Linked DNA regions of Homo sapiens. The protein of the gene in region 1 purifies or fractionates together with the protein of each later gene. This does not show direct contact. Each region holds a gene or a part of one and is shown in the gene's direction. Other genes may lie near its edges. The genes, in order: DGCR2, URB2 and KIDINS220.

Region 1 (3,749 bases):
GCTGGTCTGGAACTCCTGACCTCTGGTGAGCCACCTGCCTTGGCCTCCCAAAGTGCTGGAATTACAGGCCTGAGGTACCATGCCCAGCAATTTTTTTTTAAGTGCACATTTGAACTTGATTTAAGATGTGTCATGTGCCGGACACTGTTCTAAGCACTAACATATGTTAACTCTCAAGAGGTCCCTGCTAGATGCTGTTTTTAGCCTCATTTAAAGATGGGGAAGCTGAAATCCAGAGCACTCATGAAGCTAAGGCTGAGATGAGATTTCATCGTAGGAGTCTGGCCTTCCCCCCATCATGCACCCGTGACTGGGGTCTGTGCACTCCAACTGTGTGTCTCCAGCCCAGCCACAGGAGTACCTCATATTATGCTCTGAACAGCTTCCTTAACCCCAGGTGGAGCCACAGACTGCCTCTGTCCCCTGTTAGGTCCCAGGGTCCTCTAGGTGAGGGTGCAGAATCTTTTTCCATGTGGATACTCCAGTCTGAGGGACAGAACCACTCACCCTCTGCCAAATCCCTTCTGTGTTTGGCCATGTGACCACTGATGATGTGTGTTATGATCACTGGGGGTGTGATGAGGAAGAACGGTTGGAGACTACTGCTGAGGTAACTGACAGCGAGATGGTGGGGGGATTTGGGGACCACTGATTGTGATACTGTCTCATTGGCCCTTTCTCCATCTGTGTAGAGAAGGCAGCATCGACTGCTGATTCTAAAACTGTTTTTCTTTCTAGCTTTAATTGTGAAACAAAATTATATCATGAGCCACAGCTCTATCCAGGTTGAACCCACCATACATAGCTGAGAAAAAATTGCCTTCTGAATGCTGGTGCACCCTGGTCCCTTCCTGCTGGTTGTTGGTCCTGTACAGGGCCTGTGCTCAGCTAGGCCCCTTGGTAAGGTAGAGGACTAGAAGGTCGTCTTCCTTCTATTGTTGGTACAGCTAGCTGGGAGAGGCAAGTGACTTGTCTAAGGTCACACAGCTGGTGAGCAGCAGAGCGTGGGTTCAGACCCAGGTGGAGCTGGCTGCTAGCTCAGGGTTCTTTCTCTTTTGCTTTCAGTAGGCAGCTGTGCTGAGCTGATCACATCTCAGGGAGCTGAGAAGTGAACACAGCACCTTGGCTCTGGAGTCCAGAGTTGTTTTTTTTTTTTTTTTTTTTTTTTGTTTGCGATGGAGTTTCTGTCTGTCACCCAGGCTGGAGTGCAGTTGCGGGATCTCAGCTCACTGTAACCTCCACCTCCTGGGTTCAAGTAATTCTCCTGTGTCAGCCTCCAGAGTAACTTTGATTACGGCGCACGCCACCATGCTGGGATAATTTTGTATTTTTAGTAGAGACGGGGTTTCACCATGTTGGCCATGTAGGCTGGTCTCAAACTCCTGGGCTCAAGTGATCCACCTGCTTTGGCCTCCCAAAGTTACGGGATTGCAGGTGTGAGCCACCTCTCCCCGGCTGGAGTCCAGAGTTTTCTTTCATGTGAAGTAGCACAGGGGTTTGGTGCATAGGGAGAGAGTGCATATTTTCATCACAAGGAAAAGTGACCGAGGTTCAGAAGTAGCTGGAGAGGTGAGCTTGCACCTAGCCTTGCCAAATCCTCCTGAGTTTGGAGTGCTTTCCTCTGTAGCCAGTACTGTGACACTTTGTAGAGTTTGTCCACTGGTAGATTTGGCTTTTGGGTTAACAGGTTCATTTTTTTTAGTTGGAAAGTGATGTAATATACTTTCTACCTTCACTAGCTAATGAATTTTCCTTTTTTTTCTTGACAAAAAGAAAACTTTTATTTGGAAATAATTTCAAACTCCCGGAAAAGTTGCAAGAGTAAAGTGAGTGCAGAGAACACCTGCATATCCTTTGCTGAGGCTTCCCTACTGTTGGCATTTTACCTTATTTGCCTTATCCCTCATCTTCCATGTGTATGTGCATATCTGTGTACTCACACACATTGCTTTTTTCTGAACCATTTGAGAATAAGTTGTATGCGCCATGGCCGTTTATCCTTGTACATGTTAACCATTGCAGAGAGTAGAGGCTGCTCCCACTTAACCCCACCCCATCGTTCTCACTAACACCTGCTATGTGCCAAGCCCTGTGTCACGTGGGAAGGTCTCATGGGTGCAGGAAGCCCTGTAGTTAAAGCCCAGGTTGGCCCAGGTGGAGGCAAGCTGGCATCACTGCATGTCAGGGTTATTGTTTTAGTTGGCGGTTCTGGGTTTAGGAATGAAGACTGCTGTTGTGGAAGATTTGTGCTGTGTTAGGCTGCGCCTTCGCTGCTCCACTTCCCAAGCTAGCTTGTGGGCACTTTCCCCACCCCTTCCTTCCCACTTCCCAGAGTACTGAGTGATTATATCCTCTTAGCAGCGGTGGCCGGTGATTTGTTTGTGCAGGTGTCCTTCTAGCAGTGACGGCAGGTAATCTTGTTACGCACAGATCCTCTTAGCAGTAATGGGAGGTGAGTGATCTGTGTGTGTCCTCTTAGCAGTAAGGGCAGGTGATCTAGCTGTGCACGTGTCCTCTTAGCCATGGTGGGAGGTGATCTGGTTGTGCAGGTGTCCTCTTAGCAGTGATGGGAGGTGATGGGAGGTGATCTCATTATGCATGTTTCCTCTTAGCAGTAGTGGCAGGTGATCCGGTTGTGTGCATGTCCTCTCAGCAGTGATGACAGGTGATCTAGTAGTGCATGCATCCTCTCAACACTGATGGCAGGTGATCTAGTTATTGACTCTCTCCTGCTGGACCTGAGCCTTTGACAGGCAGGGAGTTCCTCTGCCTCTCTTGGTTGTTGGCATAAGGACGACCCGATTGGCATTTAGTAGTTTCTTGACTCTAAGTGGAATGCATCAGTGACAACATTTAAGGACCCCGTAGATAGCTCTTGACTGATTAGATGTCTTTTCCTTGGTATGCTATTAGATTTTCTCTTATGTGCTGTTATGTTTGGGTGCTGAGGTTTTGATGACCGTCCTCTTTCCTTTCTTTCACTGCCAGTCTGCAGAGTGGGCTCGGTAATCCCGAGAGACCAGTTTTGGGCCAACAGTTCATTGAGCAGAGTGATGCATGGGCTTGGGTATGGTTATTATGTGATAGCTGTGTAACACCTGTATTTGTGTTTCTGACATGATTTACCAGTTGTCCTGGGAAGTTTAGTCAAAGCCAGTCCATCTCATCCTGCCATTCCAAGCTGTGTGTCCTGTCAGTGTGGACATGGCGGGCTTGGCAGGGCAAGTCTAGGTTGGAGGGTGAATAGCCTGTGGACCCAGATGCCCTGGACCTTCTGGGCATCCTCCTGGGAGATGGGGAAGCTCAGGTCTGGTTTTGCCTCAAATGAGCTGTCTGTAAAAGTAGCAGCTGGGATTAGATCAAGCCTTCTCATCCTGGCCCATGGCAGGCAGTTGGGTATGGTGGCTTAAGAGCATGGGCTCTAGAGCCACACTGCCTAGGCTCAATCTGTTCTACTGCTCACTCTTCAGTTTCCTCATTTGGAACATGGACATCGTAACAGAGCTTTATAGAGATGTTGTGAGGATTAAAATGGGTAAGTATAAAATTCTAAAAAGTGTCTGACATAAAGCAAACTCTTCATCAGGCAAAATGTTAGTGTTAATCACAGATAGAGTTCAGGAACCCTGAACTGAAATGTGAAATGTGAGGTGGTTTGTGCACAGGGCTTATTGGTCGGGAGAGAGCTCCCTCAGGAGGTGGCAGAGTACAGTGGCTCTGAGGAGTGTCTGCCACACAGAGAGTGCTCT
Region 2 (3,749 bases), on another chromosome or scaffold:
CGTGGTCCCTTGTGCTGGAGAAGTTCCAGTCTTTAGTCTTGCCCTATTTGCAGAGTGATGCCGACATGGCCCTGAAATCACTGTCACTGAGCTTGCTGCTGCACTGCATCATGTTCAACATGAGGAGCCTGGACAGCAGCACGCCTCTGCCCATTGTCAGACGGACACAGTGCATGATGGAGAGGATGATGAGGGAGCTCGTGCAGCCCCTGCTGGCCCTTCTCCCGGACACCCCAGGCCCAGAGCCAGAGCTGTGGCTGCAGAAGGTCAGTGACTCTGTGCTCCTGCTCTCTTACACTTGGGCCCAGGTGGACGCTATGTTCAGTTTGAACTGTAGCCAGTATCACTCTATGTCTGGGCCCCTTATAGGTGTTGCTCTGGAGATCTCGAACCTCCCTTCGTTGCTCCCAGGTGTAAAAACACAGCATTGGAAGAAGATAGAGAAGTTTACAGCTCAGTTCAGCTCTCTTGGTACATATTGCTTAGAACAGCTGTACCTGCAGAAAATGAAAAGGACTTTAATGCAAACTAGTTTCCGGTCTGAAGGAGCCATCCAAAGTTTGAGGTGCGATGCTGCCTTTATTATTGGTTCCGGCAGAAAAAGCTTGAATCAGAGAACGACGGCTTCCTGGGATGGCCAAGTTGGGATGGTGAGTGGACTCACATACCCTGTAGCACACTGGCACTTGATTGTGTCAAATCTCACAATTTTAATATCCTATCTGTGTCCAGATGATGTGGGATACCTGGCCAGTGTCCTGCTGAGAACTTTACCCATGGGCAAAGCCCAGGAAGTCTCAATAGATGAAGAGGCATACATCACACTGGAAAAAATATCCAAAGCCTTCCTTCATAGCCCTCTCTTTCCAGAGATGCAGTCCCTTCATTCTGCTTTCTTAACGTGCGTAACCACAAGTTGCTCCAGCATTCTGTGTTCTGGTGCCCAGCGTGACTCAGGTCTTGTCAGTCAGCAGCTTCCCTGGCTTTTTGAAAAGGACCACATGGTTGTGGGTCATTGGGAAAACAGATTTGCAAAAGCTGGACCCGAAGGTATAGAACCTAGAGGAGAAATTGCCCAGAACTTACTGTCCCTGGTCAAGAGTGACTTCCCTATCCAGCTGGAGGGAGAGCAGTTGGAAAGCATCCTGGGGCTTTTGGAAGTGATTTCTGCCTTACAGCTGGACAGCCTCTTGCCACCCTATCATGTGCATTATTTTCTTGTGTTACTGTCCATGGCCGTCACCAAACTAGGATGCTCTTGCTCCTCCTCACTGGCTCTCAAGTTCTTGACGACTTGCTACCAACTTCTTGGTTACTTGCAAAAGGGGAAAAGTGCTCGCTCTGTGTTCAAGATCATGTATGGTAGTGATATTTTTGAGGTTGTACTGACCTCATTGTTCAGAGCTAGTAGTAGGTTCCTTATTGAGATGGATGATCCCGCTTGGCTGGAATTCCTCCAAGTGATAGGGACGTTCTTAGAGGAGCTAATGCAGATGCTCATCCAAATGAAGCTGAGCTTGGTGCTCAATTTTAGAAAAATCACCGCATTCCTCTCTAGTTCCAAACCATACACGGAGGCAGCTTCAAGCAAACAATTAGAAAATCAGAACCCCCAGGGCAGGCAGCTCCTTCTGGTGTCTTTAACCAGGTTGTGCCATGTCCTGGGACCTTTCCTCAAAGAGCAGAAGCTGGGCCAAGAGGCCCCAGCAGCACTGTCTGAGCTGCTGCAGCAGGTTGTGCTGCAGACAGGAGCTGTGCTGCAGCTCTGCTCAGTGCCGGGGGCCCGGGGCTGGCGCCTTCCCTCGGTCCTCATCTCATCCGTCAGCACGCTCTTGGAAGCCGACCTGGGTCAGCACTGCAGGGATGGAGGGGCCGACATTTCCCAAGGAAGCGACAGGACGCTGCTCTCCCATGTTGCCCTCTACCAGGGTGTTTACTCTCAGATACTGTTGGAGTTGCCAGCTCTCGCGGGACATGATCAGTCTTTTCAGGCAGCCTTGCAGTTTTTGACTCTGTTCTTTTTGGCCCCAGAACTGCATCCCAAAAAGGACTCCGTGTTTACCTCCATGTTTCATTCTGTGAGAAGAGTTCTTGCAGGTAAGATATTTTCTCTTGAGCTAATTCTGTGTTATAGAGGTCTGGTTTCCACTGCTCCCCTTTTTGGAACTGGGAATAAGTGAACACGTGATGTGTTCAAAAGGTACCACATGTGCGGCTGGGTGCGGTGGCTTACACCTGTAATCCCAGCACTTTGGGAGGCCGAGGCGGGCGGATCACAAGGCCAGGAGATCGAGACCATCCTGGCTAACACGGAGAAACCCCATCTCTAGTAAAAAATACAAATAATTAGCCGGGTGTGGTGGCAGGCGCCTGTAGTCCCAGCTACTCGGGAGGCTGAGGCAGGAGAATGGCGTGAACCCAGGAGGCAGAGCTTGCAGTGAGCCAAGATCGCGCCACTGCACTCTAGCTTGGGCGACAGAGCGAGAGTCTGTCTCAAAAAAAAAAAAAAGTACTACATGTGGACAGTGAGAAGACCTCCCTTCTAGGCCCAGCACCCACGACTTCATGCCCTCTATTTACATTCTAGGCGTACATAAGCAATTACTGCTACAACGGTTTCCTTGCTTTCTGTGCAAACAGCAGCCTCCTCCGTATGTTGCTCTGCACCTCAGTTGCTCACTGATTTTGGAGGTTGCTCTGTGTACGTTTATAGTTTTGAAATCTGCTCCTCTTCAGCTTTTTAGCCTTTAACTTGTCCTGGCTGCAATGAGATACATAGATACCTGCATCCTTAGTAGGTTCTTATGTATCAGACTTTCAGTGCCATAAATTGACTTTAAAAAGATATGAAAATCTGCCAACTTTAAAAAAGTACAAATCAGAGCCAGGCGTGGCAGCTCACGCCAGTAATCCCAGCACTTTGGGAGGCTGAGGGGGCAGATTGCTTGAGTCCAGGCAACATGGCAAAACCCCATCTCTACAAAAAATACAAAAATTGGCCAGGCATGGTGGCATGCGTCTGTAGTCCCAGCTACTCAGGAGGTTGAAGTGGGAGGATCACCTGAGCCCAGGGAGGTCGGTGCTGCAGTGAGTCTTGATCCTGCCATTGTACTCCAGCCTGGGTGACACAGTGAGATCCTGTCTCATAAAAAAATAAATTAAAAAAAGTACAAATCACTTAATTTCTTTTTTTTTTTTTTTTGAGATGGAGTCTCACTCTGTCTACCAGGATGGAGTGCAGTGGTGCAATCTCAGCTCACTGCAAGCTCCGCTTCCCGGGTTCATGCCATTCTCCTGCCTCAGCCTCCCAAGTAACTGGGACTACTGGCACCCGCCACCACGCCCGGCTAATTTTTTTGTATTTTTTAGTAAAGACAGGGTTTCACCATGTTAGCCAGGATGGTCTCGATATCCTGACCTCATTATCCGCCCACCTCAGCCTCCCAAAGTACTGGGATTACAGGCGTGAGCCACCATGTCCAGCCAAATCACTTAATTTCCAAAGAGCCTCTTACAGTTCCTTGAGGACAGGACTGTGCCTTCCTTAGTTCACCCCTGTCCCCCCACCATATTAGGGTGCTGCCAGGTGCAAGTGCTCACTGGACCAAGGCTAACCTTCAATGTCATCAAAGTGTTTTAGTCTGAAGGCAGCCTTCCAAGCAGCAAACTAGGACCTCGTACACAGCCTCGAAGCAAGAGAGCTCATGTCTTCCTGCACAGAGTCGACCTTTACAGCCCCCCTGGTGAAA
Region 3 (3,749 bases), on another chromosome or scaffold:
TTTTCTCTTATTTTATAAATGGATAAAATAAAATAAAGTAGCTGTCTTACCATGTTCTTTTTTAAATGACGTAATACAAGTAAAGAATGCCTTGATGAGAAAGAGAAAGCTCTGAGGGATTCCCATTGGGATAAACAGAACTCATCTTTCCAGTGTGGAACCGAAAACCTTTGTGTTACATTTTTTTCTAATTGTAATATTTGTTAGTGTGATTTAGTGATTATCAAAGTAAGCCACACTTGCCTCATTTTCTCCAAATTCTCATTTTCATGTCATGTAGGACTTAGGATCATGTCACATTTGATGAAACCACATAGGTTTGGGTTTGCAAGGTTAATGCATTTGCATAGTTTTTTTTTCTTCTAAGATCCTATTGCAATTCTAGCAGCTATCAGGAAGTTGGCTAGAGATGCCTGAGATTTGGGGGAAGGTTTTAACGAAGTCTTTATAGTAGGTATTTCACTAAGGTATACTTTTTATATCAGAGTACTGTGTAATAAAGTAGAACGTTAATAACCAGCCTCTAATATTTATATACTTGAAAGAATGACATCTGAGAGAAGTTTTTTAAAGAATTATGAGCATATGTAGACACCATTTTACTCATCTCAGCCAATTTTAGAAAGGTTTCAGATAATGTCAGTTTCCTTACAGAGCTGGCTCGTGCTAGTCCCTGTTTGCATGAGTCAAACACCGGCTTTTCCATGGATAAGCCCCACTTTCTCCTTCAGGCAGCTGGTTGGTGTCAGGAAAGAGCGGGGTCTCCCACACGAGTCCTTTGTGATGATTTTGTTCCCATCGGGGTAGTGGTTTTCTCCCCACTCAGCTCTTTGCTCCTAGACCCCGGCTTTCTGAAGCCCCTCAGAGCCGCTGGCCTCCTCCGTGCTTAGGGCTCCGCGGCATTGTTGCAGCAGGACCTCTGTCACAGACTTGCTGTGTATACTGTTTTCTTCAGGATTAACTTGGAAACTGAACATTCTATTGATTATAAACATAGCTATTTCATAAATTTGCCCCAGTTAATAAAGTCAGGTTTTACATTTTATAAAAGCAGTAAGCTACCTATTATTAATAAAGAAAATGCTGTTGTTTCATTTAGGGGAAACTAGAATTACAGGGAACCAAAAGTAATAACTTCCTTTTTTATGATTTTTTTTTTCTTTGAGATGGAGTCCTGCTATGTCACCCAGGCTGGAGTGCAGTGGCGTGGCCATGGCTCACTGCAACCTCCCGCCTCCTGGGTGCAAGCGATCCTCCTGCCTCAGCCTCCCAAGTAGCTGGGACTACAGGCATGTGCCACCACTCCCAGCTAATTTTTGTAGTTTTAATAGAGATGGAATTTCACCATGTTGGCCAGGCTGGTCTCGAACTCCTGACTTTAGGTGATCCACCCACCTCAGCCTCCCAAAGTTCTGGGATTACATGCGTGAGCCACCGCGCCGGGCCTTGTGAATTTAATAGACTGGAAAATTAGTGGGTGGGCATTCTTCATATCTGTATCTAATATAACGGATAAACAAGTTTGCCAGGCCTACTTCATTTAGAACGTTGTTAGTGACCAACACGCTTATGAGAACAGATGTCTTTGTCCCCTCCCAGCAGCTTGTGTTCATGTTCATATTTTCTAAGATTAGAAAACAAAAACTAACAGTTTTGTTGTTGCTCATGACAGCATAGGTAGTTTTGGAAATAGGAGGGTTAGTTCTTCGGTTGGTCCCAGAAAATGCCTAAGACATTTGGGAAAATATGAAGTGGCTGATGTTGTTCAAATTCAGCTTGTTTATTGTATTATTATATGGGATGATAACCTTTTTTTTGGTCAGCCTTTCTGGTCTCTAGAGACTTATTTAAAACTAAATATAAGCATACTTGGCAATCACTAGTAATTCAGAATATTTCACATTCTGTCTTTATACCCATAATTGTTTTAATTTTTACTCAGGCAAACATAAATGGCCGTGTGTTAGCTCAGTGTAACATTGATGAGCTGAAGAAAGAGATGAATATGAATTTTGGAGACTGGCACCTTTTCAGAAGCACAGTAAGATATTTGTAACATTGTGATGTTTACAACATTATTTTATGATAACATTCAAAATTATTTATAACATTGTAGAAAACCAGTATCAATAAGTACTGGCCTAAACTGGTATTTTTTTCATATTTTTTTAAATTTAAAAACTGCTTCTTACACTTATGTGCAATCCTGTGTTGTGGAAAATACACACAGCAGCACTTGGCAGCCTTTGCCTTTTTGGGCATTTCACTCAGAGATTTGGGGAAGAGGCCGCCTGCCGGTTCTTCATGCTTTCACCTGCCTTAACTCTCATCAGGCTCCTCAAAGCCTTCGAGGCCTTGACCTTCAGCATTCATCCTTATAGGGCTTGCATTGCCCAGGTTTAGCAAGAATCCTGTTAAGTCAGTTTACATGTGTGATCACCCTCAGTATTTGATCAAACGCCTCACTAACCCCCCCACCCCCAGGTGATGTCGGCTCACCCTGGCCATCGGCGTACCAAGAGTCCCCCACTCCTGCTGCCTCCCCTTAGTAATGTTCCATCCACGACCCCCACCCTGCCCCTTGGTGGTAGATCCCCACTCATTCGTGCTTATTCCGAGTTGGACTCCCTTCTGTAGTGAGACTGCTTACCCCTGTTGCCATAGTTCTGAATAAAATCTGGACCTACCGCCCTACTCCTGGCCAGCTCTGGTTTTGACACAAGCCAGCTGCATTTTTCTTTGTCCTCAAGTTAAGTTTTAAACAGAAGTAATAATTTAATGGACAAATTGCAGTGTAGTATATGTATGGTGGTTTCTACCATTGCTTCCTTTAGTATTAATGAACATGAAAGATAAGCTGATGTATAAAACAAATTCACTAGAAATTCACTTACCAGAAGTATGCTTTCTCATTGCTGTTGCAATAGCTTTATAATGTTTGGTATTTCTAAATATTTCTAAAGCTTCTAAAATATGATTTGTTAGTGTAAATATTTATGTTTTTCTTCTGTTAAGGTACTAGAAATGAGAAACGCAGAAAGCCACGTGGTCCCTGAAGACCCACGTTTCCTCAGTGAGAGCAGCAGTGGCCCAGCCCCGCACGGTGAGCCTGCTCGCCGCGCTTCCCACAACGAGCTGCCTCACACCGAGCTCTCCAGCCAGACGCCCTACACACTCAACTTCAGCTTCGAAGAGCTGAACACGCTTGGCCTGGATGAAGGTGCCCCTCGTCACAGTAATCTAAGTTGGCAGGTATTTATTGAATGGCATTTTTCATATTATTGAAGAATAAGCACACCGTTCAGTTCACTGAGATTATATGGGCATTTAGACAGTCATTCAGAAAATGCTTACTGAATACCTAAGTGAACAGGAGACAAGATGGAGGGCTCCCTGTACTCAAGGAGCTGCATCCATGTGGAGAGGGGCAGTCAGTGAAACAAACAAAAAAGTAGCTCATGTAGACATTGATGAGAGCTGAGATATCCATCAGGGTCACAGCATGCAGAGTCAATAGGGATTAGGCCACTTGAGCTAGGGTGGTCAGCAAATTCAGCCTTTCTCAGGCGATCTTCCTGTTGCATTCAGTAACTGTTGGTTGAAGTACATCTTCATTGGAACACTGGCCACATAGTGTCCCTTTGAGCACCATCCTTTGGTTTTCCAGGACGCCTGCACACCCTTCACGGATATTGGTTTCTTCTGGTCTGGCATTAGATGTAGGCGCGTTCTTCCTTTGGAGATTCTTA

Evidence for each region.
Region 2: the proteins of DGCR2 (region 1) and URB2 purify together in Homo sapiens (co-immunoprecipitation; 2 studies listed by BioGRID and IntAct, with this or other methods). This does not show direct contact.
Region 3: the proteins of DGCR2 (region 1) and KIDINS220 purify together in Homo sapiens (co-immunoprecipitation; 2 studies listed by BioGRID and IntAct, with this or other methods). This does not show direct contact.

Annotation. Positions count from the first base shown.
Region 1 is NC_000022.11:19,115,794-19,119,542, reverse strand, and holds part of DGCR2 (integral membrane protein DGCR2/IDD isoform 1 precursor), read left to right. Parts: intron 1-3,749. UniProt on the Homo sapiens protein: Putative adhesion receptor, that could be involved in cell-cell or cell-matrix interactions required for normal cell differentiation and migration.
Region 2 is NC_000001.11:229,636,151-229,639,899, forward strand, and holds part of URB2 (unhealthy ribosome biogenesis protein 2 homolog), read left to right. Parts: coding exon 1-2,097; intron 2,098-3,749. UniProt on the Homo sapiens protein: Essential for hematopietic stem cell development through the regulation of p53/TP53 pathway.
Region 3 is NC_000002.12:8,732,947-8,736,695, reverse strand, and holds part of KIDINS220 (kinase D-interacting substrate of 220 kDa), read left to right. Parts: intron 1-1,942; coding exon 1,943-2,041; intron 2,042-3,015; coding exon 3,016-3,252; intron 3,253-3,749. UniProt on the Homo sapiens protein: Promotes a prolonged MAP-kinase signaling by neurotrophins through activation of a Rap1-dependent mechanism. Provides a docking site for the CRKL-C3G complex, resulting in Rap1-dependent sustained ERK activation.